4 separate regions of the Homo sapiens genome follow, and all the other regions are linked to region 2. The links come from fine-mapping of genetic effects on gene expression. A gene starts in region 2. Each other region holds a variant in brackets. All regions are shown on one strand. Distances are from middle to middle.

Region 1 (8,107 bases), 290 kb after region 2:
TCTTTCTAAACATACACACAGAAGAAAGGCTATATGAGCACTCAGTTAAGAAGGCAGCTGTCTACCAGACAGGAAGAGGATCCTCACCGGACAGTGAATCTGCAGGCACCTTGATCTTGGACTTTCCAGCCTCCAGAACTGTGAGAAATACATGTCCGTTGTTTAAGCCACCCAATCTGTGATATTTAATCTTGTTATAGAAGCCTGAGCCAACTAAGACAGGTGTTTACAGTGTTTTCTGCTTTAAAGTCATAAGATTATAGGAAAAAATTTAAGTGACTATGCAGTGAAGTATCTCTTTGATTATTTTAAAGTTGTAGTGAAAACATTGCTGGGTTGATTTTCAAGTACAGTACCCATTTCAATACTGAGCTTGGTATTACTATAAAGTGAAACCTACAATATGGTATTTTGAAACATCTTAACCAAAGGAAAACTTTATGTCTAACCTTCCACAGAAGATGGTGTTGGAATAAGCGAAGAAAAGAAGCTCTTTAACGATGCCTGGAAAGAAAAGTGCTATCTAAAAATAAAAGTGTGCTTTACCACATGGTCTCACTTATAAGTGGGAGCTAAGTAATGTGTATACACAGTGTGGAATAATACACACTGGAGACTCAGAAGAGTAAGAGGGTGGGAGGGGGGATGAGAAATATTTAATAGGTACAATTACATTATACAGGTGATGATTACACTAAAAGCCCAAACTTCACCACTACACAATATATCCATGGAACAAAAACTGCACTTGTATCCTTTATTTATACAAAATGTTTTAAAAATAAAAGTGTATTTTTAAAACAAAGTTATGTTTATCTTTGTCTTACCTTTCCCTGAATTTCAGCTCTTTTGTGATTTAAACACAACTCTTTCGCTCTCATGAGTTGCAGAGTCTCTCGAGCTAGCATTAGCTGAAGTTTTTCCAACCTGGGAATTGCTGTGGCCCAGGCAGCCTGACCAAATCTCTTCGCATCCTGTTCCATTTCTTTCTGCATTCCTGTTGGATTATAAAAATAAAATATAATTACACCTCATTAAAAAGGGAAACATTTATCATGAGCTAATCCTTTTTTTATTGCCTCCATACTACCTGCAGAATATCCTTTTTAAAAGAAATTTTATTAACTTTTTTATTATGATAAAAATAATACATGTTCATTGATATAAAATTTTAGGTATTCCATTTTTAAAAAGACAGTAAGTCATGATCTCACCTAGTTGAGGCAACTGCTTCTTATATTTTGGCACACTTGCTTCCATATTGTTTCTATGTCTAGCTAGACAGACAGGCTCATATGGATAGTTTGACCACAAAACCAGGATCATCATTCTGCTTTCTATCTTGTTGATTCTGCACAATGTATCAGAAACTCTTGCCACTCATAAAAAAAAATCAAGAATCATGCTTAACAGCTACGTAGTTTTCTGTTTTATGAAGGTACCATAACTTAACAAACTGACAGACGTTAAGTTGTTTCCTACTTGGTGTTTTTATCAACAATTATTTAAGACTAAAAAAAAGTCCTTCACCCAGCCCACAAGCCCCTGCATGGTCTGACCCCTGCCTGTCTGGCCAGCATTTTCCCTCATACCACACTGTCCTGCACTCTCTGCGATCCAGCCCCGCAGGTTTTCTTTAAGCTCCTAATTTGCCAACTTCCCTCAAGGCAGGGGACTTTTGGCAGTGCTATTCCTTCTGCCCGGAATACTCCTCACTTTTTATTTTCTCTCAACTTCCATTTACCCTTCAGATATTGGGGCAAGCGCCACTTCTCAGAGGCCTTCAGTGACCACCACCCTGATCAAGCCCAATTTCTCTCTCACAGACCCTCAGAGCCCATGTCTCTCTTCTTTGTGCCATTTACTGTCACTGCCATTTTCCATGTGCTTCAATGAATAGATAATTAAGATTTCTCTCCCTTCACCAGACTGTACAACGTCTCTTAACGCTTGACACTGAATTCTCAGCACCTAGAAAACATAGTACCTAGTGCGTAAGAGGGACTCAAATGGTATTTGAATAAAATGATAATCAATTACATGTATCTTCATATAGCATTTTTTAAATTATCACCTGCTAATGCTTTTACTGTCTCCTTAAAATAATTCACTGTGATATCCTGAATAGAGACGACAGCTTCTTCAGCCCGTCTGGTCCATTCTTCAGCTTCTTTCTCCAGGGCAACTACCCTTCTAGGACCTAGGTCATCCTCATCCAAAGACTTCTACAGACAGAAGGGAAAATTTTCTTAGTAAGAGCTAATAGTTATGTAGAGCCATTAGGAAATTGAAAGGAAATTGGTCACATGGATTAATTTAACTACACTACTACTCAGTCAATTAAATTTTCATTCATTCAGCAGTCCCTTACTGCGTATGAATAAGGCTCTAAGCTGAGCACCACCTGTAAGACAAAAGGACACTCTGGGGCATAAAGCGAAAAAAAAACCCACTTTCACTTCACATGCCTAGAATAACTTTTTCTAGAGAGGAATGTTGTCAACTTATGCTTCTATTAATAATAATACACAATTGTTTAAATGAGTGATCTGTGTTGTCAAGCACTCAGCATAGGGCCTGGAACACAGCACTTAAGTATTAGCTGTTGTTACTGTTTCTTTTAGGGATATGTAATATAATCACCTAAAATATAGTATCTGTATATTCATGCTTATAACATGTACTGGTATTGGACTCCCCCCAAAATGCATATGTTGAAGCCTAAATCCCCAGTGTGATCATATTTGAAGATGGGGCCTTTGGGGGGTAATTAGGTCATGAGGGTGGAACCCTCAAGAATGGGATTAATGCCCTTATAAAAAGAAGAGGAGACACAGGATCTCTCTTTCTCTGCTCTTCACCATGCGAAGACACAGCAAGACAGTCATCTACAAATTAAGAAACTGGCCCTCACAAGACAATGGATCTGTGAGCACCTTGATCTCAGACTACCCAGCCTCCAGAACTGTGAAAAAAAAGTTTTGTTGTTTATAAGCCACTAATCTACGGTACTTTGTTATAACAGCCTGAACTAAGACGTGTACTGCTATGTCATCCAATATGCAATTTTTCTTCTACAAAGCCTAAGAAATATGTACAAGTTAGCCGACAAGGAATTACAAATCAAAAC[C/T]ATAACGAGATACCACTTCACACCCACTAGGATGGCTGTAACCAAAGAGACACACAGTAACAAGTGCTGGTGATAATGTGGACAAACCGGAACCCTCATTTACTGCTTTTGGGAATATAAAATATGCACCCACTTTGGAAAACTGTCTGGCAGTCTTTCAAAAGGTTAAACATTGAGTAATCACAGGACCCAGCAATCCTACTCCTTAGTACATACACAAGAGCAATGAAAACATATGTCTACACAGAAACTTACACACAAACATTCACAGAATTATTCATAATAGCCAAAAAGTGGAAACAACCCAAATGTCCATCAACTGATAAATAAAATGTAATATATCCATACAATGAATATTACTCAGCAATAAAAAGAAATGAAATCCTGATATTTGCTCCAACGTGGATTAGCCTTGAAAACATTGTGCTGAGTGAAAGGACCACATATTGAATAATGCTGTTGCTATGTCCAGAGTAGGGAAATCCACAGAGACAGAAAGTAGATTGGTGGTTGCCCAGGGTTGGGAGTGACTAAAGGGTACAGGGTTTCTTTTGGGGGTGAAAATGTCCTGAAATTACACAGTAATGATCACTGCACAACTTTGAATATACTAAAAATCACTGAATTGTACTATATATATATATATATATATATATATATATATATATATATATAAAATCTGTGAGTGATATCTTAAAACACCTTTTATGAAAAACAGGCCGGGTGCGGTGGCTCACGCCTGTAATCCCAGCACTCTGGGAGGCCGAGACGGGCGGATCACGAGGTCAGGAGATCAAGACCATCCTGGCTAACATGTTGAAACCCCATCTCTACTAAAAATACAAAAAAATTAGCCGGGCATGGTGGCGGGCACCTGTAGTCCCAGCTACTCGGGAGGCTTAGGCAGGAGAATGGCGTGAACCCAGGAGGCAGAGGTTGCAGTGAGCTGAGATTGCACCACTGCACTCCAGCCTGGGCGACAGAGCGAGACTCTGTCTCAAAAAAAAAAAAAAAAAAAAAGAAAGGAAAAATATAGGCTGGGTGTGGTGGCCCATGTCTGCAATCCCAGCACTTTGGGAGCCCAAGGCAGGCAGATCACCTGAGGTCGGGAGTTCGAGACCAGCCTGACCAACATGAAGAAACCCCGTCTCTACTAAAAAAATACAAAATTAGCTGGGCGTGGTGGCACATGCCTGTAATCCCAGCTACTCGGGAGGCTGAGGCAAGAGAATTGCTTGAATCCAGGAGGCAGAGGTTGCGATGAGCTGAGACTGCGCCACTGCACTCCAGCCTAGGTAACAAGAGCAAAACTCTATCTCAAAAAAAAAGAAGAAAGGAAAAATGTATGCAAGAAGTAGACTTTCCAAATAATAGACTTTCAAAATAATGAACAGAACAACTTTATCCACAGGTTAGAGTGGTATGACTCTCATCTAAATGTGATACTATTTTTATAATACAATCATCTGGCAAGGGTCATGAGATTATATGTGGAAAGATGGCCCGGTGCAGGGGGCAGAAACCAAGAGACATCTTAGGTGTCTTCTGATTTCTGTTGTTGAGACCCAAGGCAAGCTGTTTAACTCCTCTGGACTCTAGATTCATTTGTAACACTGGAATAAGCATGCCTTTTCTGAATGATGTCACAGGGTTGTCTGATGGCTCAATGAAGCAAGAGTGATAACAGCATTTACTAAAATTTAAGTTACTGAATTACAATCTAGGGTCCTGCTATTTAAATTTTCATCTTATTTTAAGAAATCTGCGTAAGTCCTTAGAGGAAAACAAGCTGAAGCAAATAAATATCACATCAAAAACAATTCATCAGGCTGGGTGCAGTGGCTCATGCTTGTAATCCCAGCACTTTGGGAGGCTGAGATGGGTAGCTCGCTTGAGGTCAGGAGTTCAAGACCAGCCTGGCCAACATGGTGAAACCCCGTCTCTACTAAAAATACAAAAAAAGTTAGCTGGGCGTGGTGGTACACACCTGTAATCCCAGCTACTCAGGATGCTGAGACAGAAGAGTCGCTTGAACCTGGAGGAGGTTGCAGTGAGCCAAGATCATGCCACTGCACTCCAGCCTGGCTGACAAAGGGAGACCCTGTCTCAAAAAAAAAAAAAAAAAAAAAAAAAAAAAAATTCATCACCAGAAAAAACATTTAACTCTTTCAAATCTGTAGGAATCTTAAGCTATTAAGATGACCAACGTAAATGTCTTCATTTTCTATCAATTTTAAATATAAACTCAATATGTACATATAAGGGTAAACTAGGCACATGTAATGCTGTGCTTTGGGAGGCCAAGGTGGACAGACTGCTTGAGCTCAGGAGTTCGAAACCAGCCTGAGCAACATGGCAAAACCTCATCTCTATCAATAAATAAGTAAATAAATAAACATAATGGTAAACCCAAACAAAGTACAAACAGAGATTGAACATTAAGTGTAAATAAAGAAATAATTTATGACAAATAGTAAATCTGATAAAGTAAAAATTTTAAAAAAACATACCAAAATATCAAGCTTACATAAAGTTGCAACTTCTCGCATAGCCCTAAATGGCTGCAATAAGTACTGGAAGAACATGGTTGCCACGGTAACCAATTCCTGGTATGCTTCATCTTCCTCTTGGTAAACGTTCATTAATGCTACCATGGTGTTGGCTTTTCCGTGTCCTTGAATAACCTAGAAAGCAAATGTGAATAAAGCTCAAGTCAGGACAGTATATTTAATACATACCCAACAAACAAAACTAAACAAAAGAAACCTTCATGTTCTCAACTTTTAATACATCAATTTTAAATACTGATTAAATATGAAAATGTTATCATCCTCCATCAAAAATGCCCAATAAAACAAGAATGGTTAAGAAAAGTATGATATATCCATGTAAGAATATTATTACTGTAGTCATTCAGCACTGTGCTTCTGAAGATTGTTTAATAATATGGAGACTTTTGTCCAGGCATGGTGGCTCACACCTGTAATCCCAGCTGCTGGGGAGGCTGAGGCAGAGAATCGCTTGAACCTGGGAGACAGTGGTTCCAGCCTGGGCAACAAGAAGGAAACTCCATTTCAAAAAAAAAGACACTTTTATAATATTAAATGGAGAGGCAGAGTGCAAAGTTTAATCTCAACTATGCACTAAGTATGCAGCGAAAGGGACCCAAAAGAAGGTTTGAGGTTGTGGATATTTTTTCATTTCACTTTTCTGACTGTAAAGGTGTTGTGAGGCTGTATTCCTTTTTAAAGCTCGTAAGGGCCAGGCGTGGTGGCTCACGCCTGTAATCCCAGCACTTTGGGAGGCTGAGGTGGGCGGATCACGAGGTCAGGAGATCGAGACCATCCTGGCTAACACGGTGAAACCCTGTCTGTACTAAAAATACAAAAGATTAGCCGGGCGTGGTGGCGGGCGCCTGCAGTCCCAGCTACTGGAGAGGCTGAGGCAGGAGAATAGCATGAACCCGGGAGGCGGAGGTTGCAGTAAGCCAAGATGGCGCCACTGCACTCCAGCCTGGGCGACAGTGCCAAGACTCCATCTCGAAAAAAATTTTAAAAAAAGACCTCATAAAACATTACAGAGCTGTCTCCAAGTACTTCAGCATGTTGATTCTCTTAATGCCCCAGATTAATATTCCCATGAAGCCCTTAGCAGTCACCTCATTTACAGAGCCTCAACTGTGGTTCCAGTCTCTGCTGGTTACTGCTTCTGCTGCAGGGCAGAAAATAAACTGAACAGTGTATAATCTAGGTGGACTCACTTGGCAGGAAATTATTTTACTCCCAGAAGAAGAGAAATAAAATCAAATAATATAGATTTTTTTCAACCAATACATTCTTAAATTCTCCTATTTCCATCCTTCTGCTTAAGGATAAAGTGATCTACTTTCAGCTATAGTTTTTTATCCAGGTAATAATATTATGGGTTTTTTTTTTAAGTGAAAGCCTCACTGAACAAAATCAAAACACACACGCAAAAGTAAACTTAAGGCAAGTGATACATTTCAGCCTTATTTCTTAAACTATTCAGAAAAATTCCAGAGTTAAAACATTCAGCTTCATTTTATATATCCTAGCAATACTAGCAATTGGTCTAATTCTAGAATCAATTGCTTTTCCATTCTAAATATTAAAATTATATATTTGAACACGTTTTGAATTTAAGCTTCCTCTCCCAACCCCTCATTTTTAAGTTCCAGATAAATATGTGAACTACACTAACGTGAACGGCTAGCTCAACAGTATGAACTACATTCATGCTATAGTACCCCAGAGTGAACTTAAATTTGGGAAAACTATAACTTTTCTGATAGTATTTACTACAGTAAAATACATCATAAACATGTTCGATTTTAAGGAGAAACCACCTATCTCTGTGAGAAACCGAGTGTGTAAAAAACAAGTCTGATACAAAATGATATCATTTTTGAAACTCCCCTGTGGGTTCCTCATATCCTAAGGTGAAGACGATAAAGTTGAAGATCAAACGCTGACTGGCCTGAAACTCCCCTGTGGTTTCCTCATATTCTAAAGTGAAATCAACACGAGAAGTGGGTGTGTAGATATTTACACATAAAACCCACAGTACAAAAATGACCCCACTAACGAGCTCCTTTTATAAAACCATTTTAATTTGGAAAGCTTATTCTACATTTAGCTTAGGCTGAATTCTTCTCTTCACTTCCCCTTCCTCAGAAGAATGCACAGAAAAAAATCATTCAGGTTAATAACAGCAGTGAGCCGAGACTCCAGCCTGGCTCTCCTTAATAAACTGTGGGTGTGGACTTAGAAGGCATATTTTCTCCTAAACCCTTCTGTGAACTTGTACTTCCCCTCCCCTTAGGTTCAGTAAGTTTACCACTCAAATAATTACTCTCTCTCAAACTACCTCTTTCAAGCTTAAAAGGGCACTAATGCGGTCATTCCAAACTGATGAATAAAGTTCACCTTCTGCCGGCTTTCCATTTGACCAAGTATA
Region 2 (8,107 bases):
CTATGTGGTAGCCATTGTTGCAGGCCCTAGGAGACTGGATAAATAAGAGAAGTCCCTGCCTACATGGAGGAACCTATCTCAATGGACTCTGAGCTCTACCCACTAGGAGTTCTCCTGCAGTCCAACAGCAATACTCTCCCTCTCACACCTCCAGCACTGACAGGGCTTCCAATTCTAGACAAAATACTACCTGGCCCACTCCAATGGCCTGCTACACCAGGACCTCTTCAGATTGGAGCAGCTACAAGCACCACTCCTCAACTGAGACCCCTCCACACCACCACAGCCCAACATCGGGACCTTTGGATAACTATCACCGTCCCCTAGGAGAGAGAAAGATAAGAATAGAAGGAGGGAGGGAAGGGGGGAACAAATAGACGATGAGTGGATGGATAGATGGATGGATGATGGGTGAATGGTTGGATGGATGATGGATGAAAGGATGGATAGATGATGGATGAATGGATAGATGATGGATGAATGGATGGATGGATGATGGGTGAATGGGTGGATGATGGGTGAATAGATGGATGGATGATGGATGAATTGATGGATGATGGAGGATGATGGATAAATGGATGGATGGATGATGGATGAATTGATGGATGATGGAGGATGATGGATAAATGGATGGATAGATGATGATGAGTGGATGGATGGAGTATGGGTGAATGTATGGAGGATGGATGGATAAATGATAGATGGATCAATTCTATGATAAGAATGAGGCCGGGCGCAGTGGCTCACACCTGTAATCCAAGCACTTTGGGAGGTCGAGGCGGGTGGATCACCCGAGGTCAGGAGTTGGAGACCAGCCTGGCCAACATGGTGAAACCCCGTCTCTACTAAAAATACAAAAAATTAGCCAGGCGAGGTGGCGGATGCCTGTAATCCCCGCTACTTGGGAGGCTGAGGCAGTAGAATTGCTTGAACCTGGGGGTTGGAGGCTGCAGTGAGCCAAGATTGCACCACTGCAGTCCCGCTTGGATGACAGAGCAAGAGTCCGTCTCAAAAAATAATAACAATTAATTACATTTTTTAAAAAAGAATGAGGGTGGCTGTTTCAATGTCCAGGTGAGAAACTGAAAAATAGGAGGTTTCTGGTGATTGCACTTCAGTGGTTGCTCCAGGCTCCTCCTGTGGGGATGAGCTGAAGAAGGAGGAAGCCAGTGTGGGTCAAGAGTATGATGCTGGGCTGAAGAATCCCATGAGGGAAGAGGTGGGTGTGCTGGGTCAGCTGACAGGCATTTTAATGGTGAACAGCCTGAGGCAGGTGGTGGTCAGGTGACAACTCCAGTCTTCACTCCTACCAAGGGCCTGCACTCACTGCCAGCAGGATCGCGTGGTTGGTGCTCTTCTGGAGCAGGACAGAGCAGTGTGAACTGGTTCACAGCGTCCTCTCATGCTCTTAGCTCCAGGAGAGGAGGGAAGAATGAAGGGAAACTAGGGCAGCAGATTGTCTCTGACTCTTGGCACTGTCCCCAGAGACCCTCCTACAACAGCCAAGTGCAGGACCTGCTCACCACAGGAAGAAACAGGTCCTGCAGGGACTCAGGGACAGGTAAGGGCTGCGACTAACCCCAGGATGAGAAAGTTGCTAGTCTTGGGGGGTGGGAAGGGCTGCTGATGCCCTTCTATGAACAGACACCTACTGAGAGGGGACATGCAAGGATGAGTGTGAGCAGTGTGTCTCTCTCAGTGAGAGAGGGAGACAGAACACGCTCAATCCTTTCCTGACCTCTCAATCTAATTTTCTTTTTCTGGTTTTCAGAGTTGCATAAAAGGTTTGGTGGGAAGGAAACTCGATTCAACAAAGTCAAACATACCTGAGTGCCTACGATGCACACGGCGCTGGCCTGGGCAGGACAGTACAGAGGGGTGAGCTATAGCCGGGGCAGGTAAGTTCTTACCACAGGAAAGTAACTCTCGGGAGAAAGGTGCAAACAAGGGACTGAGGGAGCTCAAAGGAGAGAGAGGGAGGGTCTGCAGAAGGTAGAAGTGGCCATAAAGTCCAGGTGCGGCTTCAACAGTCTGCGATAGGAGGAAGGCAGCATCCCTGTCAGGGAGCAGCAGGAGTCCGGGCTAGAGGCTGGAGAGGAGGAGGAATGGTCAAGGAGCAAAGGCAGGCTGGTGCGGCAGGAGCACTAGTGCGTGGGCTGGGACTGGGGGGCCGAGGCCGAGAAACACGCAGCGGGGCTGGGCAGCGAGACTTGCACCGGAGCCTTTGCCACAGTCCAGGTCAGAAAGGGCCAGTGCCAGGGAGAACTGAAAGGAGGGAACAGACACTAGAGCCCCAGGACTTATGGGGAAGCAGACAGTAGGAGGAAGGGAGTGGAGAAAGAAGAGAGGAATCAAAGGCCACGGGGGTTTTAACCTGCAAGAGGACAGGAAGAATGGCTGACACTAATTATTCAAAATGCTGTAGTGCTTGCCAGTGCGCTCCATCATGCACAGCAATACATAGTTCAGTCTGTATTCAGTAAATGCCATCACCATCTTCCCAGTGGCTGAGGCCAAAACCTAGGGCTCATCCTCAAATCCTCTGCTGCCATGCAACCCTCTTCAGTAAGCCCCATCTGTTCACCTTCCAAAATACCTACTACGCCCATCCAATTCCTTCCCCTGCACTGCTCCATTTTCCTGCCCGACAGGCTCCATTCCCAGATCTTCCCATAGCTCAAGTGTTACCTCCTCCTAGAAGCCTTCCCTGGCCACCAGCCCCCTCCCCAGTCACCCTATTTTATTATCTTCATAGCATGTCACTATCGATGTATTAATGTTTGTTGATGTCTATCTCATTACCTGCCTCCACAGCCTCTTCTGGCTTGTTCATAGCTATGTCACCAACACTTGGAACAGTGCCAAACACACAGTAGGCACTCAGTATATCTTCACTGAACTACCCGTAATGCCATTTTTTGGAGCACAGGGTCCCCCATGCACTATATTGACAGGCATGTAATATTCGGTGGCCCAGAGCAGCTGCCTCCAGGGGATGCCTCCAGAGACTGGGCCAGACCAAGGGTAGACACTGCTGGTGCCTGGTGAGCACTCAGTGTGGGTGCTGCCTGTATCAGGCGGCCAGGCAGCTGGAGAGGAGGAAGTTACCACCCTATGTACAGACACTCCACGGCCTGACCAGCTGAAGGGGGTTTGCAGCCTACAGACTGATGCAATTTCCTTAGCACCAACAGCTGAGAGACATAGCAGGTTACTTCCTCCTCCCTCCAGACAGCAACCAACATCAGCAGGAACAGAGGCTGGCGCCTGTCCCAACACCCGGCGACCCTCAGGCCTTCAGCTGCCGGCTGCAGGTTAGTCCGTGATCCCTGCAGTGGAGTGGGAGGCAGGGCTTCGAACCCAAGCCCTGTCCCCCTCCATCAGCCCCACCCATTTCCTTCACATTGAAGTGTTCTGCCTCTGCTGCCTGTCCCCATCCTACCCCAGCGCAGGCACTGGGAAGCACTTCTCCATTCACAACGCCCCTTCACAAAGAGGTCTCGGTGGAACCTTACAATAGGACGCACACAAAGTCCACTTGACCGGAAAACCGAGGCCAGACCACACCGTCAGTGCCAAACACCGTCAGGCCAGACACCGTCAGTGCCAAAGCCAGGCCTAGAACCCACGTCTCTGCCTGTTGGTTCCGGGCTATTTCTGCTAGTCATTCACAACAGTTTCTAAAATTAATAAGAAATGATAAGTATGCGAAAGTCCATACATGGAAACGTTCCCGTGAGATGCAAAAAGAACAAGGCACAAACGAGCTGACACGGCCAGGTTCGTAGTGTCCGTGTTTGTTCCGCTCCCCACCGGCCCCTGGGCCCCTCCAGGGCAGGGGCATGGCCGTATTGACGCCTGTGACCCCGGGCACCTGGCGCGGTGCTGGCACCAACATCCCGAAATGCGCCAGCCTGGGCACCTCAGGGCCCGGCTCCAAGACCCGGCCCGTGCGACCCCTGGGGCGCCCCCCTAGTCTGGCCAGGCGCGGGGAGCCCCTGCGGCCACGAACCTCTGTCCCGCGGCGGACGGTCCCAGCCCCCTCGGAAAAGTTGCGAGGCTCCCGTCGCGGCGAGCCAACTCCCGCCGCCCCTCGGCGCGACCCCCGCCGCGCCGGCTCACTCACTCATGCTGGGCCGCCAGGTGGTTGAAGACATAGGTGACCGGGATGGCCGAGAGGGACAGCACGAAGACCCCGGTGGCCGCAGAGGCACTCATCGCAGCCGCCGCGCCGCTCGCCCTTCACCGCATCCCGCTGGGCGCCCCGCCCCAGCTTCCGGCGGCGCCCGCGCCCCCTTGGCGCTTGCCCTTCGAGGCGCCTCAGCCGCGCCCCCCGCGTGGCGCCCTCAGCGGCGTCCCCTCAGCGGTGTCTCCTCCGCGCGCCCTCCCAGCCCGCAGCCGTCCCCCGCGCCTGGCCCCGTCGCCCCAAGTGCGCAGGGCCGCGGTGCAGTCCCGGGAGGCGTCCTTGCAGTGCTCCTGCCAGGGGCGCCACGGCTCAGCGGCAAGCGCCCGGCGGCGCCGAGGGGCGGCGACACCCCCGCGCAGGGACAGGTGCCCCTGGCGGCGCGCGCTCCGAGGGAGGGCCCGGGGCACGGCCGGGAACCGGTCATCGAAGAGCTGGAGAGGCGCGGGGCTGAGCTGCGGTCCGGGAAAGGTGGAACCAGATCCGAGGGTGTCAGAGGAGGAAGGGCCCGCGGGATCGTCTATGGGGGAGCCCACGGCCCAGAAGTGGGAAAGGACAAAATGCCCCTGAAACCTCGGAACCTCTCCGCTCCAGTAGCCATCGGCGGGCTGCTGCACGGAGCCGGCATCCGGTTTTTAAACCTGGCTCTCCAGTCACCAGCTGTTGACTTTGGTCAAATTACTTAACCTCTCTGTCTTTTCCCTTATCTGGGAAATGGGGATAACACACTTCATAGTGTGACTGTGGGGTTAACTGAGTTCATACCTACGAAGCGCGTTATCCTGTGCTGCTCACTACACCACCTCCTGCGATTCTTTTTTTTTTTTTTTCTTTAATTGAAATGGACATAAATGCTGAGACTCTAAGAGACTAGAGCGCCATTCATTGCTATTCCAGGAAGCATTCCTGGAGGCCAGGTGCCCACCAGCCAGCCTGCATTGGGCCCTGCAGGGTACAAAGACTGGAAGATAAGCCTCTTCCTCTGAATGATAGATGCCTACGGGTATGGAAAATATTGTGTGTCAAGTGTTGTGGCTATCTGAAGGGCAGTGAGTTCCAGGAGAACAGCTCAAGCAACTGAGGGAGGTACCGGCATGTACTTACTGTCTTTACAACTTCCAGGGAATTTAAGAGACCATTTATGTGTTTTTGCTGTTGCCATTTGAGGGGTTTATTTTATTTATTTATTTATTTATTTATTTATTATTTTTATTTTTTTTTTTTTTTGAGACAGAGTCTCGCTCTGTCACCCAGGCTGGAGTGCAGTGGTGCAATCTTGGCTCACTGCAAGCTCCACCTCCCGGGGTTCACGCCATTCTGCCTCAGCCTCCAGAGTAGCTGGGACTACAGGTGCCCGCCACCGCGCCGGGCTAATTTTTTGTATTTTTAGTAGAGACGGGGTTTCACCGTGGTCTTGATCTCCTGACCTCGTGATCCGCCCGCCTCGGCCTCCCAAAGTGCTGGGATTACAGGCGTGAGCCACCGCGCCCAGCCTATTTTTATTTTTATTTTTTTAAGACAGGGTCTCACTCTGCAAACCAGGCTAGAGGCAGTGGAGAGATGAGGGCTCACTGCAGTCCCCACTTTCCCACGCCAAGCCATCCTCCCAGCTTAGCCTCCTTAGCTCCTGGGACTACAGTCTCGCACCACTTCTTTGTAGAGGCAGGGTCTCACTATGTTGCCCAAGCTGGTCTCAAACTCCTGGGCTCAAGTGATCCTCCCTCCTCGGCCTCCCAAAGTGCTGGGATTACAGGTGTGAGCCACCGCACCTAGCCTCTAAAAGACCATTTGGCTCATTTTAGACATGAGGAAAATGAGCTACGAGGAGGTATGGCCTGCTCCAGGGCCACTCCACTTTTCAAATGCCAGTTCTCCTAATCCTTCATCCTAGTTCTTCTTGAAGGCTTCTCCAGCTCTGAGTGCATAACGTTTAAGCCTTGGCCCACACTGTGACATATCCAAAGTTTCTCCAAGAGGTGTCCTCACCTGTCACCTGCACATCACCCTCTTCCACCCCTAACCTTCACCACTCTCCTTAAACTCCTACTTCCTCCCTGACAAGAGACACTTCCTCCTATACCTCTGAGCTCCCAGCCAGGCTCCCAAGCCAGCCCATCCCTTCCATCAACACCCAACCTTGTTGCATCAGTCTCAGAGCTGCTCCCTCAGAGCCCACAAGGGACCCAAGTGACATGGCAAAGTTTCAAGGTATTGTGATATACATATTGGGAATTACATGATTTTTTTGTTGACAACAGTTTCTCTTTTTTTTTTTTTTTTTTTTTTTTTTTTTTTTTTTTTTTTGAGATGGAGTCTCGCTCTGTCACCCAGGCTGGAGTGCAGTGGCGGGATCTCGGCTCACTGCAAGCTCCGCCTCCCGGGTTCACGCCATTCTCCTGCCTCAGCCTCCCAAGTAGCTGGGACTACAGGCGCCCGCCACTACGCCCGGCTAATTTTTTGTATTTTTAGTAGAGACGGGGTTTCACCGTTTTAGCCGGGATGGTCTCGATCTCCTGACCTCGTGATCCGCCCGCCTCGGCCTCCCAAAGTGCTGGGATTACAGGCGTGAGCCACCGCGCCCGGCCAGTTTCTCTCTTAATGCTGAAAATATGAGTGGTCAGAATGCTTGTAGTTGGGAAGAGTTTTTCGCAGGAACCTTCCCTGGCTTTTGGGATAAGTGAACCCCTCTGGCTGCCCTGGATCCTTCCGCTCAACCTAGACACAGGCTCAAGTAGCTTCCAATTTAGAAATCTGCTCCCTGAACCTGAGTGTCCTGGGTTTTTTTTGTTTGTTTGTTTTTTGTTTGTTTGTTTGTTTTTGAGACAAAGTCTCGCTCTTTCACTCAGGCTGGAGTGAAGTGGCACAATCTCAGCTCACTGCAACCTCTGCCCTGCCCCCCGCCGGGTTCAAGCAATTCTGCCTCAGCCTCCCAAGGAACTAGGATTACAGGTGCCCGCCACCATACCCGGCTAATTTTTGTATTTTTAGTATAGATGGGGTTTCATCATGTTGGCCGGGCTGGTCTCAAACTCCTGAACTCAGGTGATCCACCCGCCTCCATCTCCCAAAGTGCTGGGATTACAGGTGTGAACCACCACACCTGGCCCTGAGTGTCCTCTTTTGCCTACCATCTTCTCTTGTTTCTTTCTCAGACACACTTGGTTTTAATGGCCACATCTATGATGCTAGATCCCAAATAACAAGCCCTGACCTGTTATTCCCTTAGCATGGCTGCCTGGGCATCCCGGTGGCACCTCACAATGTCAAAACAGAATTCCTCATTTCCTCAAGACACACTCCTGCTTTATTTTATCTGGTGGCACCACAATTCGCCCACTCACCCAAGCCAGAAGCCTGGGAGCCATCAGTTCCCACCTCTCCGGAATTCCTTTTGTTACACAATTCTCCCAGTGTGACTTTCCAAATATCACTCAAGTCTGTTTGCTCCTCCCCATCCGCACCTCCTCTTAGTTTTGGTCTATACTGCCTCTCATCTAAACATGTCCTAGTCTCCTCCCTCTGATTCCTGCCTCTGACCTCAGTTGACTCAGCTGCTGTAGAAGGCCTTACCTGACCACCCTCCTGAACTTTCGCCTATCAAGCGCCCTGCTTTATTTGATTCAGAGTACTTTTACTATCTAAAATTATCTGGCTTACGCCTTTGTTTACTGGTCTGGATCTCTCCTCCATGATAATGGAAGCTCCTCGAGGTTGGGAACCTTCTCTGGCTCGTTCATTGTTCCATTCCCATCATCTAGATTAATGCCCAGTACATAGGAGGTGCTCAAGAAATATTTGCAAGCCAGGCACAGTGCTTCAGCCTGTAATCTCAGCACGTTGGGAGGCCGAGGCAGACAGATCACTTGAGGTCAGGAGTTTGAGACCAGCCTAGGCAACATGGTGAAACCCTATCTCTACTAAAAA
Region 3 (8,107 bases), 250 kb before region 2:
GCTTCCTGTTCATCAGTCTGTACAGAAATTAATTAGCCCCACTTGGCAGCAAACAGGATCGAATTTTCAACTTAATTTATGAATTTGGCCAAACTTTCTATGGGAAATCTTGCCTGGAGGACCTTCCATGGCTGCTTCATGTCCCAACAGGCCTTGCCTTTCATAGAAGACATGATTGCTTTAAGAGAGTCCCAACCAGAGAAGAGGACGGTGGAGGAGGGAAGAGGGGAAGGTACAACTGAACAGAGGCTTTGATTGTGAGGCTCCAGCCAGACCCACGCTTCCTCCTGCCTTCCTGCCTCAACCCTCCCCGGTGGACCCCTCACCAGATGAAGGTCTGTTAGCTGAGCTGGGGGATGATGACTCAGAGGAACGGGGCTGACTTTCAGGCAAGGCCTGAGTTTGGTTTTAATTATGCTGCGCTGTGTGCATGAACTAAAATTGCGGGATGATGTGAAAGAAAAATAAATCTAATGAGAAGTGTATTTTTTGGACTATTTTTAAATTGAGTTTGGGGGCGGGGGGGGCATCTTCTTGGGTCTGGAGAGACTAATGTGAGGAATCGGCTCCTATGGGGCATGAATTAGGGCCTTGATCCTATATGCCCCTGAGTGGAACCCAGAAGAGATGCTGGCTGTCGTGAGTGAGCAGTCAGCCTTTGTCACCATGCAGGTCAGCCTCTCTGACTGCAGGTAGTGTGTTCAGGAATCCCAATCAGACTTCTCTGCTGGGCAGTCGAGAATCCCATGTAGGCCGGGCGCGGTGGCTCACACCTGTAATCCCAGCACTTTGGGAGGCTGAGGCGGGTGGATCACCTGAGGTCAGGGGTTCGAGACCAGCCTGGCCAATGTGGTGAAACCTCGTCTCTAATAAAAATACAAAAATTAGCTGGGCGTGGTGGCGGGCGCCTGTAATCCCAGCTACTCAGGGGGACCAAGACAGGAGAATCGCTTGAACCCGGGAGGCGGAGGCTGCAGTGAGCCGAGATCGCACCATCACACTCCAGCCTAGGGGATAAGAGCGAGACTTCGTCTCAAAAAAAAAAAAAAAATCCTATGTAAACCACCACTAAGCAGTGACTCCAGCCTCTCCAGTCTTGGAAACACTTATGTGACAGAGTGTGTGAATGCCTGTCTGTGTGGTGTACATGCTTTTTCTTTTTCTTTTTTTTTTTGACGGAATCTCACTCTGTCCCCCAGGCTAGAATGCAGTGGCATAATTACGGCTCATTACAGCCTCAACCTCCCAGGCTGAAGCAATCCTCTCACCTCAGCCTCCTGAAAAACTGGGACCATAGGGACGTGCCACGATGCCCTGCTAATTTTCAAATTTTTTGTAGAGACAAGGTCTTGCTACGTTGCCCAAGCTGGTCTTGAACTCCTGAGCTCAAGCAATTCTCCCACCTTGGCCTCCCAATGTGCTGAGGTTACAGGCATAAGCCACTCCACCCAGCCAGCACGTGCTTTTCTATGTTCCAAAAACACTAGTTTTATCATGGAAAGCCTGTGAACCACTGAGTGAAAATAGGAGGGAAACGAATGATGGAATGTGTTCTAATCTAACCAAAAAGTTCTCACCAGCCTCAAGAGTCAGGATGTGTTCCTACTACTTAGAATCATTTCTTAGAATTTCTACTTAGAATTATTCAGTAATTCTGCTGGGCGTGGTGGCTCACGCCTGTAATCCCAGGACTTTGGGAGGCCGAGACGGGCAGATCACGAGGTCAGGAGATCGAGACCATCCTGGCTAACACGGTGAAACCCCATCTCTACTAAAGTACAAAAAAATTAGCTGGGTGTGGTGGCGGGTGCCTGTAGTCCCAGCTACTCAGGAGGCTGAGGCAGGAGAATGGCGTGAACCCAGGAGGCGGAGCTTGCATGAGCCAAGATCGCACCACTGCACTCCAGCCTGGGCAACAGAGTGAGACTCTGTCTCAAAAAAAAAAGAAGAATTATTCAGTAATTCAACCATTCATTAAGCCTTGAGGATACAGCAGGGAATGTGCCCTTGAAGCTTAGAGTTATTATGAACACAGAAATAAGCTTTCAGTTCTGGTTTCCTATTCTATTAAAACTTAGGCACACGTACCCCCGATTCTAAAATTTTTTTAAAGGTAACACCCCCACAAAACCAATAAATACTAGATAATGGGATATATTGGAAAGAGAACAGGCTGTAGGGATAGGCTGGCTCTTCCCCCTACTAGCTATGTGACCTTGGACAATTTATTTACCCTGTTCTTTGGCAAAATGTTCTTTCTTTTTTTTTTTTTTTTTTTTTTAACAGAGTCTCGCTCTGTCGCCCAGGCTGGAGTGCAGTGGTGTGATCTTGGCTCACTGCAAGCTCCGCCTCCCTGGTTCACACCATTCTCCTGCCTCAGCCTCCCGAGTAGCTGGGACTACAGGCGCCCACCACCACGCCTGGCTAATTTTTTATGTGTTTTTAGTAGAGACGGGGTTTCACCATGTTAGCCAGGATGATCTCGATCTCCTGACCTCATGATCCGCCCGCCTCGGCCTCCCAAAGTACTGGGATTACAGGCATGAGCCACCGCACCAGGCTTACAAAATGTTCCTAATACCACTTAACTGTAAAGTCACAAGGATTAAACAGGATCCTAACCGAAACTGACTGTTTTCTTAGACCAAGGTTACCATAGTTTTCTTGCAAAGGGCCACAGAGTAAATATGTTATACTTGGTAGTCCTGTTGCAACTATTCAACTTCACTGTTACAGCATAAAAGCAGTCATAATACATATACACCATGGAATACTATGCAGCCATTAAAAAGAACGAGATCATGTCCTTTGTAGGGACATGGATGGAGCTGGAGGTCATTATCCTTAGCAAACTAACGCAGGAACAGAAAACCATGTGGTAGCATGTTCTCACTTATAAGTGAGAGCCAAATGATAAGAACACAAGGACACAACAGAGGGGAACAAGACACACTGGGGCCTGTCAGAGGGTGGAGGGTGGGAGGAGGGAGAGGATCAGGAAAAATAACTAATGGGAATTAGGTTTAATACCTGGGTGATGAAATAACTGTACAACAAACCCCCGTGACACAAGTTTACCTATGTAACAAACCTGCACATGTACCCCTGAACTTAAAAAAAATTATAAAAATAAAAGCAGCCATAGAAAATAGATAAATGAATAAGTATGGCTGTGTTCTAATAAAACTTTATTTATGGATGCTGAAAAAAACTTACTTTATCATGGGCTGCATTAATGAACTCTAAGTTCTATATTAGTTTCTGGGGGGGGTTTTTTGGTTTTTGTTTTGAGATGAAGTCTCACTCTGTCACCCAGGCTGGAGCACAGTGGCACAATCTTGGCTCACTGCAACCTCCGCTTTCTAGGTTCAAGCGATTCTTCTGCCTCAGCCTCCCACGTAGCTGGGACTACAGGCTCGCGCCACCACACCCGGCTAATTTTTGTATTTTTTCAGTAGAGACAAGGTTTCGCCATATTGGCCAGGCTGGTCTCGAACTCCTGACCTCGTGATCCGCCCGCCTCAGCCTCCCAAA[G/A]TGCTGGGATTACAGGCGTGAGCCACTGGCCCGGCCTAGTTTCTCTTTTTTAATGAAATGCACACTGCCTGACATACATGAACATCATGATTATCTCTCTCACATGCATGGCTATTTAAATTTGTATCTGTACAGATGACGTCAATTTAATCCAAAAAGGTTATCTACTAAAGGGAGCAACTGTTTCATGACAGATAAGGAACAAGAGGAAGCCTATTTGCTCATGACTTTGACGATTTGTAGGTGCCCTTGGGTCCCTGAGAGGAATCTCCTTGCAGGAAATTTGATTCTTACTGAGAACTCAAACCTAGATGCAAGGAAGGACTCTCCTGGGTACCCAGATCTGCTGCCATGGTCAGAAAAAGCATATTAAATGGAGCGTGCTGGAACCGGAGTAGGTGCCTACCTCCTTCCTGTAGGCGTTTGCAGCTGCAACCAGACTACCCTTCCCTTTAGGAATTTGTGATGTTATTACCAGCTCACTCTATGACCTCAGGCTGTGTCTGCCCTTTGTTTACCTTTGTTCTCAAACTGCCAGGTATATAATTCCATGGTTCCCTCAGGTAGCTTCTTGGGAGAAAGTAGATTGCATAAACAAAGGTGTGTATAGCGACGATGGGAGTTGGACCGGCTAGGCAAAGCATTTGATGTGCTAAAGGAACCAAAGCGTGGTCTTCCTTCAGTACAGCTTCCCAGCTAAATTGACAAGTCACTGTTCTGCAACAAATGTCCTTTACTTTCTTTCCCCACCCTCACCCCCATTCCCATGCCTTTACCGACTCAGGTCCTGTTGCCTGAACCTCCATTCCCTGCCTTCTCAGATGAAATGCCTCTCAGGCCCAGCTCACATGCTACCTCAACTCCATGAATGCTGCCTCTATGGTATTCTCTAGAGGTAATTTCTTTCTCCTTTCTGGCACTACATCACTCTCGAAATGCAGCCATTTGCATACTGTCTCACCTACAAATTGCAAAGTCCTCACGAGAAAGACTGTGCATTCTTAATCTTCTTTGTCCTCTATTGTCTTAACACTGAAGAAGGACTCTGTCTTATTTGTTCTGTCTACATCACCCTGGGAATATTTGAGGACAAATTACTGTTTATAGAATATGATGAAATTTAATGAAAGAGGTCTCAATGTTAAGTCTGATTGTGCTGAATATCTAAACATTTTTCTTGACTGAAAGCAAACAAGCAGAGTGATTCTCTTTAGTGCCCTACTGCCCAGAAATGTGACTTAGTAATGTTTCTCTGTCTTCCCTCCCTCCTTCCTCATTCTTTCTGCTGTTTACGTATTACTCCAGCATAGAAAATGGAGACCAGGAGTTGACAATAAGAGCCCAGAGACCAGGGTTCAAATCCCAGCTATGCCTCTTACTAGCTGAGTGATCCTGCACAAGCCATTTAATTTGCCTGGGCTTCAGTTTTTGAACTGTAAATAATGCCATCTGTCTTGCCTATCTCCAGAATGGCTGTGAAAGTTAAGTGAGATGGTGTACATGCAAGTACTTTAAAATGATGCAGTGTTTTCACCGTGTAAAAATCATTGAGCTGTATAGTTAAAACGTGGATGTATATTATATTTTAGTGAAAGGTTCTTTTTTTTTTGTCGCCCAGGCTGCAGGCTGGAGTGCAGTGGCACGATATCGGCTCACTGCCAAGAGCCGCTTCCCGGGTTCACTCCATTCTCCTGCCTCAGCCTCCCGAGTAGCTGGGACTGCAGGCGCCCGCCACCAAGCCCGTTTTTTGTATATTTTTTAGTAGAGACGGGGTTTCACCGTGTTAGCCAGGATGATCTCGATATCCTGACCTCGTGATCCGTCTGTCTCGGCCTCCCAAAGTGCTGGGATTACAGACGTGAACCACCGTGCCCAGCCAGTGAACGGTTCTTTATAGCATTTTGTTCAGACATTTTCAATTGCGTGGCTATTAAACTGATTGCTGAAGAAAAAGGTGAAAGAATGATTTAAAGTTAGCTTTAAGTCATTAATACAGTCTTGAATAGATATTGAGTTTATATGGGAACTAGCCATTTCACTGTACTGCGACAACTCCACATTTTGTTAATTATTACTTCATAAATAAATCTCAGTGTTTTAATTTTACCCTATTCAAATACAATAGAACTACCTTTTGGTAATCTGGGAACTTGTATTTGAAGTCAAATTTAGGAGCTCTTTGTGGAAAAGTATATGATAGAGTAAAGGATGATTTATTATGTTACTCATAAATTTTGTCTTTAAAATAATGCCTGGGATAGACGAGCTATTATAATTGTTTGGTTTTTGTTTGTTTACTGCTATATACTCAGTGCTTTGTACAGTGCCTGAAAAACTGTCCCCATTTATTTGAGAACTAAGGGGTACCCAGAACCCGGGACTTTCAGTGTTAAAGCTGGAAAAGTCCCGGGCAAACTAAGATGATTGGCACATGGAAGATGCTGATATATTCGTGGAAGGAAAGGAGGGAGGAAGGAAGGCAGGCAAGAAATTGGTGAATAAATTTTGGTACTATAGAACCCTCCTTTCCTTGAAATTTTCTAGAACTATATGTCATGTGTGCATATTTTAAATGTTTTAGTATTCATATTTGAAAGCCACTATGCTGCACTTTAAACATCATTACCTGGTAAAATGCCCTCAACAAAGTGGTTACTGTTTGGCAAATATTCCACGACTAGGACCACAGGCAGATGTAAAGATGCGGAAGCTACACACTTTAGACCCAGTTGTCCCAATTCTTTTCTCCTGAATTAAGGATTTAATTACTTAAAAAAAAATTATAAACCAGAGAGAAGATACCTATGTAGACTTTACTGTATCCATGGACAATTAAATTCTAAATGCAGAGTTTTGAGTTTCATGTTGTTCTCCTGGTTAAAGGCATGTAGGGCTGGAAGAGACCTCAGAAACCCCTCCAGCCCCTTCTATTACCAAAGGATAAAGTGAGTCCAGGGTGGGCCAGTGCTGGCCCAGGTCCCCTTGGCAAGTTGGTGGCAAGGCTGGGCTAGGATGATCCTCTGCTTTTCTCTGCAGGGTGCATACCACGTCCCCATATTGCCTCTTCCTTTGATTTTCACTGCACTTGTCCTCCTTGCCTTCAGCCTATGGCGCTTTGGATCAAATTATGAAATCACTTGTCAGATTTGAGGATTTCCTGTGCTTCCAGGGCATGCACACCTACTTCTATTTCAAAACTAGTTGCTCTTACCTAACCCAGCCTCCTAAAAACTCTCCAAAAAATTGGGTACTGTACAGGTCTAATGAGGGTGCCTGAGAATAAGCAATCTAAAAGTATTTTATCCATTAATCTCCAATGACCAGATGTGGGTTTCTACTCCTAATTTGGGGGTAAACACGGATGAATGGGGTCCTACAAATGGGCTGCCCTCTGAACCTGTGACTGATATGACTGTGAAGAGGAACAAATGAAAGTGGAGTGAATATACAGAACAGAGGTGAGAACCAAGCACAATAGAAGAAAGATTAACATAGCAAAACCAACAAGTCTCAAGACAAAAAGATAATGAGCTCAAAATTACAACATGAGTAATGAAATAGTGGACACCACTGTTATGGACTGAAAGTACGTGTCCCCCTAAAATGTATTATGTTGAAGCCCTAACCACCAATGTGTATTTGGAGATGGGCCTTCGGGGAGGTAATTAGGTTTAGATGAGGTCATGAGGGTGGGACCCCAAAGATGGAATTAGTGTCCTCAGAAGAAAATGAAGGGTGGCCAGAGCACCCTCTTTCTCTGCCATTTGAGAACACAGTGACAAGTGTCTGGCTGCAAGCTAGGAAAACAGCCAGACTTTGATTTTGGACTTTCTAGCTTTCAACACTGTGAGAAAATAAAATTTTGTTGTTGAAGCCAATCCACCTGTGGTATTTTCTTACAGCAGCGCAAGCAGACTGATGCAACGATATACACAATTCTTCCAACACCCTGGCCTCTTAGCTCCTTGACTTCTTATTCCCTGTGACCCTGCGTTCTAGCCTACCTAATCACCCACTGCTATCTAAATCACCTGGACCAGGGACTCTCCACCTTGACTGCACATCAGACTCACCTAGAAAGTCTAAAACTCAACACCTGGACATCACCACAGCCCACTGGAATCAGAGTATTTCACAGGGTGGGGCCTGTTATTTAAAAGTTCCCTGGGTGATTCTAGTGTGTGGCCATGATTGAAAAGCACTGCAAACACACTCAAGCAAGTTCAAATCAATAAAATGACAACCTTATATAAAATTAGGCAAAGAAGCCGGCGTGGTGACTCATACCTGTAACCCCAGCACTTTGGGAGGCTGAGGCAAGAGGATCGCTTGAGCCCAGGAGTTCAAGACCACCCTGGGCAACATAGTGGATCCCCATCTCTACAAAAAAATACAAAAATTAGCCAAATGTGGTGGTGTGCGCCTGTAGTCCCAGCTGACTACACTCAGCCAAGTGAGGTTGAGGTGAGAGGATCACCTGAGCCTGGGAGGACGAGGCTGCAGTGAGCTCTGATCTCACCACTGCACTCCAGTCTGGGCAACAGAGCAAGACCCTGCCTCAAAAAATAAAAAT
Region 4 (8,107 bases), 19 kb after region 2:
GTTCCTAATGCCCCTTTCCTCTGCACATAGGAAGGGTACTTCTGGAGTGAGGGTTTTATGATTCACTCCAAAGAAGGGCAAGAGGGAGGTGAGAGTGACCTTACTAATTCTGCTGTTTCTCAAATGCCAAGATGCTATCTTTTGGGGTAACATGTCCTGAACCTCATCAGGAGAGAGTGATTAATTCAGCTAGGGAGGCAGGCTAGTTAGATAGAGACTGTGAACCCTGAAAGACCAGGGCAGAGAGTGCCTTTCAGAAGAAAGGTAGTTAGAGCAGGTAGAATGGCCCAGACGCTATAATCCCACAGCATAATCTAGGAACTCCCAGCCACCTGGCCGGGGGAGGAAGGTTAGTGAAACCTTTTTTTTTTTTTTTTTTTTTTTGAGATGTAATTTCCCTCTTGTTGCCCAGGCTGGAGTGCAATGGCGTGATCTTGGCTCACTGCAACCTCTGCCTCCCAGGTTCAAGTGACTCTCCTGCCTCAGCCTCCTGAGTAGCTGAGTAGCTGGGATTACAGGCACCTGCCACCATGCCCAGCTAATTTTGTTGTGTTTTGTTTGTTTGTTTGTTTGTTTTTGAGATGGAGTCTCACTCTGTTGCCCAAGCTGGAGTGCAGTAGCCTGATCTCGGCTCACTGCAAGCTCCGCCTCCCAGGTTCAAGCGATTCTCCTGCCTCAGCCTCCTGAGGACTACAGGCACACACCACCATGCCTGGCTAATTTTTGTATTTTTAGTAGAAACGGGGTTACACCATGCTGGCCAGGCTGGTCTTGAACTCCTGACCTTGTGAGCTGCCCGTCTTGGCCTCCAAAAGTGCGGGGATTACAGGCATGAGCCACTGCGCCCGGCCTAATTTTGTATTTTTAGTAGAGATGGAGTTTCTCCATGTTGTCCAGGCTGGTCTCGAACTCCTGACCTCAGGTGATCTGCCCGCCTCAGCCTCCCAAATTTCTGGGATTACAGGTGTGAGCCACTGCGCCCATCCTAGTGAAACTTTTAAGCAGAGGAGTGACATGCTCAGCTTGGCCATTTTAGTAGCTTAGTCTGGTAGATATACAGAGAATGAGGTGAGGGGGTATGAACTAGGCAGCAAAGAGCTGAGAAGAGCAGTAATCTAAGCTACAAATGAACGGGTCTTGACTATGGCGGCTGCAACGAAAGGAGAAAGGAAAGGTTAATTAGGAATCAAATCTAAGAGTTTGATGATTAAATGGATGTTGAGAAACATGGACCACAGAAGAATTTAGGGATGACAGCTGGCTGGGAGAAGGAAAAGGAAAGGGAACTAAAAGGACTAAGGTATACTGAGAGATGCTGAGACCTATTTGGGTTCTTCTCTGAGGCCTGGAAACAAGGTCCTCCTTCCTTGTGCTTGTGGCTGCCCAAATAAAATCAAGTTTTATAAACCAGGGAAGAAAGGAGAAAAAGATGTTGGGTAGTGCTTATAAGATAGAAACTTGTTGTATGCTTGACGCATTACTTTCAGTGCCTGTCTTGATTCTCAAGCAACTCTACAAGGTACTGTTTTCACTGGGAACACATGAAGTTACAGGTAACAGAATGCATAAATCTGGTTTAAGCCATGAAGACATTTGAAAATCTGACATAAGAATCCTGGAGAAAGAAGTTTCCTTTTTAGCTGCAGTGGCTCAAGGATGTCATTAAGAACCCGGCCTCTTTATGTCTTCCTAATCCTCCTCCTCAACACGTTGGTTTTTCACTCTTAAGCTTGTCAACACAAGGCTTTTCCCTTTCCGGGATTTTATCTTTAACTAGGCTACAAGAATCTTTCCAAAAGCCTGCTTCCAGACTCTTCCATCTCATTGGCCATAATTGGCCACATGCTGAGTTCAGAAGCAATCTCTAGCAGGGGAACGGGCTAAGCTTCAATCAATCATGACTTTTCTCTGAGGCCTGGGGACAGGTATTCCTTCTTTGTACATGTTGTGGCCCAAATGAAATCAGGTTGTATTAACTAGGAAAGAAGAAGAAATAACTGTTAGGTAATGGTAGTAAGTCATATTTCCAACCTTCAGAACATCTGAGGAAAGGGGACAAAAAGAAAAAAGAATTGACCCAGGTCAATCTCCTAAATGCTTTTTTTTTTTTTGAGACAGAGTTTCACTCTATTGCCAGGCTGGAGTGCAGTGGCACAATCTCGGCTCACTACAACCTCCACCTCCCAGGTTCAAGCGATTCTCCTGCCTCAGCCTCCTGAGTTGCTGGGACTACAGGCAGGCACCACCACGCCCAGCTAATTTTTAGTAGAGATAGGGTTTCACCATGTTGGCCAGGATGGTCTCAATCTCCTGACCTTGTGATCCGCCCACCTCAGCCTCCCAAAGTGCTGGGATTACAGGCGTGAGCCACCACACCTGGCCCAATCTCCTAAATACTTATTGATGGCATTTACAATCAGAAAGATAACAAAAAGCCCTTATTTATGCAATAATTTACCAGGATATAGCTGATCTGTCAGCTGTGTAATTACTGAAGTATAAAACGAAGGTGTTTCCTGACCTCTTTGTGTAAGTTATATCCTGCATGCATCACTTAAAAACCTCCTATGTCCATTTTGTGCCAGGGTGCATCCTAATATGGCGAGAGAGGACCGGGAGCTGCACTGGTGGTCCTCAGCATCTCTGTGCTTGGCCCAAGTCTCAATATCATGTGTATCTTTCGAATTCTCAGTAAAGGCCAATACTGGATAAGATTACTGAGTCCTGTGAGTCTAATTGAACAATCTGATCTTTTATGTTATCCTAGGTAGGTAAACAACAATGTTATTATCCCCATTTGACAGAAGAAGAAATAGAAACCTAGCAAGGTTTAAAACCTTGCCCAGGCCGGGCACAGTGGCTCACGCCTGTAATCCTAGCACTTTGGGAGGCCAAGGCAGCCAGATATCCTGAGGTCAAGAGTTTGAGACCAGCCTGGCCAACATGGTGAAACTCCGTCTCTACTAAAAATACAAAATTAGCTGGGCGTGGTGGCGCGCACCTGTAATCCCAGCTCCTCAGGAAGCTGAGGCAGGAGAATCACTTGAACCCAGCAGGCAGAGATTGCAGTGAGCTGAGATTGCGCCACTGCACTCCAGCCTGGGCAACAAGAGAGAAACTCTGTCTCAATTAAAAACAAACAAACAAACAAACAAACAAACAAAAATCCTTGCCCAAATTCACCTAGCTATTGATGAGTAGACCAGGATAGCAGGATAGCAACTGGGGCTTAGCTAGTTTCTACCACAGCATGTGGCTAACTGGTTGGTGGTGTTATTCCCTGAAATAGGAATGTGATGAACTCTTTCCCCTCATCTCTGGACACAACTGTATGACATAGCTAGCACATTTCTGTCACATTCTTATATAAATGATCTGTTGAGGCCACAGGCTATCGTCAGACAGCCAGACATTCTTCCCGCTTCACTACCAGGATTTTGGCTGGATTTTTTTTAAGGTAGCAGAAATTTACTTACAAGGAATTGAAAGAGGCTCCAGGGAAGGAGATGTAGTCAGTTCAGTTTGACATGTCTGTAGGACACCAACAGATTTCTAGATGTTTGAATATTCAAAACAAGTATTATGCTAAGAATGATCAGGGCTGGAGATACAGCTTTGGAGATCACCAGCACTAGCTGAAATCATGGGAATCCATGAGATTAAGCAGAAAGTGGGTTGAGAGTAGGAAGTAGACAGCCAAGGATGGAAGCATGGGTAATACCAGTGCCCACGGTGGGGCAGAAGAGGAGGTTGTGATACAGCAAACTGAAAAGAAAACATTAGAGAAAGACAAGTGTGAAAAATTATAAAACTGTGTTACAAATTCCAGGTAAGGAGAGTTTCAAGGAGTGAATGGTCAACCACCAAGCCCAGTGAGGTCAAATAACATGACAGAAAAAGACTCATGGACTTGGCAGGTAGGAGATCACCAGCCAGTGGCCTTAGAGCCACTCAGGGGAGTGGTGGCCAGAGCCAGACCACAGCGGCATGAAGACTGTGAGGAGATGAAAATGTGGAGTGAAGAAACTTTGATAGGAAGGAAGAAGAAAGGAAGACACTCAGAAGCTGAAGCAGAGGCTTTGAGGAGATGTTTTTCTGTTAGGGAAATTAGTTATGTATTTGTGGATATCAAGGAAAGGAACCAGTGGAAATGGAGACATCAAAGTCACCAGAAAGGAAATGGACAGGCCAGGCACGGTGGTTCACGCCTGTAATCCCATCACTCTGGGAGGCTGAGGCGGGTGGATCACCTGAGGTCAGGAGTTCGAGACCAACCTGGCCAACGTGGAGAAACCCCATCTCTACTAAAAATACAAAATTAGCCGGGCATGGTGGCGCATGCCTGTAATTGCAGCTACCTAGGAGGCTGAGGCAGGAGAATTGCTTGAACTCGGGAGATGGAGGTTGTGGTGAGCCAAGATCGCAACACTGCACTGCAGTCTGGCCAACAAAAGCAAAACTCCGTCTCAAAAAAAAAAAAGAAAAAAAAATGGACAGGTAATTTAGCAAGACAGCAAGGGAATAAACTCAACAGCAAAGATGGAAAATTTAGCCTTGAAAAGAAGGGAAATTTCTGAGGCTGGAAGGAAAGAGATAAGCAGACCTACTTATAGCTGGGTTGATTTAGTTTCTGTTGGCTGGGAAATGAGTAAAGATGGGCAAAGTTAAATAAAATGTGTTCACATAATCAGTCTGGTCTATATTTATTTCCCTGTAACCAGAGAGGCAGCATATTCTAGCATCGTAGACTCTGAAACCCAACCTGCTGCTTTGAATTTTACTTCTGGCCATGACATGCTTTTTCGTGGAAGGTCATATTTATATCACTGCAGTAGAATCACAGCAACTGTGCC[T/C]AGTCTTCATAGATTATTTAAAAGATTCAGAACATGTGGGACAGATAATTTCAGTCCTTGGAGCCCTATTATTATTTTTATTGACACAACAACAGCCTTGATAATGTGGTATAAACTGGCCTAAATTTAGTTATTTATCTTATATTTGACTGTATCAAAGCAGTGGGTAAGACAGCTAATAATAAAAGCACAATTGGACAGTTAAAATGGATTAAGAAGAAAAACAACTATGACAAAAATGTAAACAATAACAATTACAGAAATGTAAATTTGAAAAATGAGGCATCTTGTGTTAATCAAAAGTGAAGTCAAATTATTAAATCCTTGTAGGGTAGACTTTAGGAAAAGAGTAATACAGAAATTGTCAGCCAGTATTGAAATTGGTTTGGTTCTTTGAATACTTGCTAACATTTGTTGAGCACTTATCCTACATTGGGCACCGTTCTAATATGTATTCATCTCATTTTAATTTAACCCTCTGAGGTAGATCATGTTACTATTATCGTCATTCCTATTTTCCAAGTAAGGAAACTAGGGCACAGAAAGGTTAAGTAAATTGGCCAAGGTCTTATAGCAAATAAGTGGCCCAGCTGCAGTTCAAAACCAGGTAGACTAACTTTACAGCCCTTGCTCTTAACTAATACTCTAGATCTGCAGTTCTCAAACGGGTCTCACGGACACTCCACGTTCTTAAAAATTATTGAGGCTTTCTTGATAAAACATTCAGCAAACTAGGAATAGAAGGAGACTATCCTCAACCTGATGAAAAACACAGCTAACATCATACTCAATGGTAAAAAGCAAAATTTTCCTCTTTTTTTTTTTTCAGGTGGAGTTTCATTCTTGTTGCCTAGGATAGAGTGCAATGGCGCGATCTCGGCTCATCGCAACCTCTGTCTCCTGGGTTCAAGTGATTCTCCTGCCTCAGCCTCCCAAGTAGCTGGTATTACAGGCATGTGCCACAACACCTGGCTAATTTTGTATTTTTAGTACAGACGGGGGTTTCTACATGTTGGTCAAGCTAGTGTCGAACTCCCAACCTCAGGTGATCCACCTATCTCGGCCTCCCAAAGTGCTGGGATTACAGGCATGAGCCACTGTGCCCGGCCAACTTTTCTCTTAAGATCAGGGATAAGACAAGGATGCCTGTTTTCACCACTGCTATTCAACACTGTACTAGAACTCCTAGATGGAGCAATTAGCCAAGAAAAAGAAAAAAAAAAAAGCATCCAAATTGGAAGGGAGGAAGTAAAATTATCTTTATTAACAGATGACATGATCCTATATATAGAAAACCACAAAGAATACACACACACACACACACACAAAAAAGCCCTACAAAAAGGCTGGGTGCAGTGGCTCACGCTTGTAATCCCAACACTTTGGGAGCCCAAGGCGAGCAGATTACCTAAAGTCAGGAGTTCGAGACCAGTCTGGCCAACATGGTGAAACCCCGTCTCTACTGAAAATACAAAAATTAGCTGGGTGTGGTGGCATGCGCCTATAATCCCAGCTACTCAGGAAGCTGAGGCAGGAGAATTGCTTGAACCTGGGAGGCAGAGGTTACAGTGAGCTGAGATTGCACCACTGTACTCCAGCCTGGGCAACAGAGTGAGACTCCGTCTCAAAAAACAAACAAAAAAAATGAAAACAAAAAACACACAAAAAAACAAACTCTTCAATGTCTGGCTTAATAGGAGACAGCAGGATTCTCTGCTTCTGCATTCCATCTGTTTCAGTATCGCAAGTCAAGTAGCCTTTGGAAAACCCCACTGCACGCTCCTGAGACAATGAGAGTAAAAAAGGCAAAAATGTCTTAGTATTTTTATGAAAATGCTTTTGATCTCACAAATCACTTGAAGGGTCTCCATGATCCTCAGGACCCCAGACCATATTCTAAAAACTTCTACCACGTACTGTATAGACAGGGACTGCTTCATGGACATAGGACAGGTGCAGTCTCACAGGGCCCTGTGCTCTGGAGAGCCCCCTATTTGAGGTTTAGTGCTTTGCAGTTGCCATCTTGAAAAATTCTTACTCATTTTATCTTCTTTTTTTTTGAGACGGAGTCTCGCTCTGTCACCAGGCTGGAGTGCAATGGTGTGATCTTGGCTCACTGCAACCTCTGCCTCCCAGGTTCAAGTGATTCTCCTGCCTCAGTCTCCCAAGTAGCTGGGGCTACAGGTGTGTGCCACCACACCTGGCTAATTTTAGTATTTTTAGTAGAAACGGGGTTTCCCCACATTGGCCAGGCTGGTCTCGAACTTCTGACCTCAAGTGATCCGCCCACCTTGGCCTCCCAAAGTGCAGGATTACAGGTGTGGGCCACTGTGCCTGGCCCTTAGTAATTTGATCTTTGAATCTGTGTGTTGTAAGTGAAGTCTGATGAAACAACAGGGCATGCACTGGAGCTTGCACCCTGGCTCATGGAGGGTCCCACCTCCTGCTGCCTCCCCACTTCCCAGGGACCAACCCAAGCCACTTGCTTCCTACCCCCTGGTGCCTTGGGCCTCACTTGGCCCGTCTCCCCAACTCCTGCCCAGCAACCACTGTCACCCTCCATCTCTGGTGGGAACCTTGGCACAGGAACCAGAAGATCAGAGTTAGGCACGGGCACCCAGGTTGTAACTCATGGGAAGGTATGGCAGCAACCTACCTCACCCAGACTGGCAATGCCACGATGCGTTCAGTAGCAACTCTTAAGGTATTTTAACAGATGTACTATACATCTGTAGCAACTATAAAGGTATTTTAACAGATGTATTATACATCTATAGTAACTATAAAGGTATTTTAACAGATGTATTAGTTATTAAAATCAAAAATATAAACTAGGCTGGGCGTGGTGGCTCATACCTATAATCCCAGAACTTTGGGAGGCCAAGGCGGGCGGATCATAAGGTCAAGAGATAGAGACCATCCTGGCCAACATGGTGAAACCTCGTCTCTACTAAAAATACAAAAATCAATTGGGCATGGTGGTGCACGCCTGTAGACCCAGCTACTCGGGAGGCTGAGGCAGGAGAATTGCTTGAACCCAGGAGGTGGAGGTTACAGTGAGCCGAGATCATGCCACTGCACTCCAGCATGAGCAACAGAGAGAGACTCTGTCTCAAAAAATATATATATATACACTAAATGATTGATAATAGAAAATTTTTTCTATTGAAAATAGAAAAATGACCTAGAGAAAGTAGTTTTTTCTTCATCTCCTACTATATCTCCTCCCCTAATATTCACCATCTCAGCTCTTA

The links. PIP is the estimated chance that this variant, and not a neighbour inherited with it, causes the effect.
Region 1: its variant is fine-mapped to the expression of TM6SF1 in whole blood (INTERVAL, PIP 0.91).
Region 3: its variant is fine-mapped to the expression of TM6SF1 in whole blood (INTERVAL, PIP above 0.99).
Region 4: its variant is fine-mapped to the expression of TM6SF1 in whole blood (INTERVAL, PIP above 0.99). The same link has a PIP of 0.9 or more in monocytes.

The regions. Positions count from the first base shown.
Region 1 is chr15:82,810,810-82,818,916 of GRCh38, reverse strand. It overlaps WHAMM (WASP homolog associated with actin, golgi membranes and microtubules), which reads right to left. Exons shown (of 10, transcript NM_001080435.3): 2 at 5,641-5,814; 3 at 2,075-2,225; 4 at 828-997. Among named protein-coding and RNA genes, the nearest start is that of WHAMM, 5.2 kb to the right of the region's middle. The variant C/T (reference allele first, on the strand shown) is at 3,131.
Region 2 is chr15:83,103,792-83,111,898 of GRCh38, reverse strand. TM6SF1 (transmembrane 6 superfamily member 1) reads right to left here and starts at 4,254. Exons shown (of 10, transcript NM_023003.5): 1 at 4,127-4,254. The coding sequence starts at 4,218. RefSeq lists silencers at 4,197-4,316, 4,347-4,626.
Region 3 is chr15:83,348,931-83,357,037 of GRCh38, reverse strand. LOC105370933 (a long non-coding RNA gene) reads right to left here. Exons shown (of 3, transcript XR_932544.1): 3 at 6,452-6,647. Among named protein-coding and RNA genes, the nearest start is that of BNC1, 68 kb to the right of the region's middle. The variant G/A (reference allele first, on the strand shown) is at 3,535.
Region 4 is chr15:83,084,388-83,092,494 of GRCh38, reverse strand. No RefSeq gene overlaps it. Among named protein-coding and RNA genes, the nearest start is that of TM6SF1, 19 kb to the left of the region's middle. The variant T/C (reference allele first, on the strand shown) is at 4,854.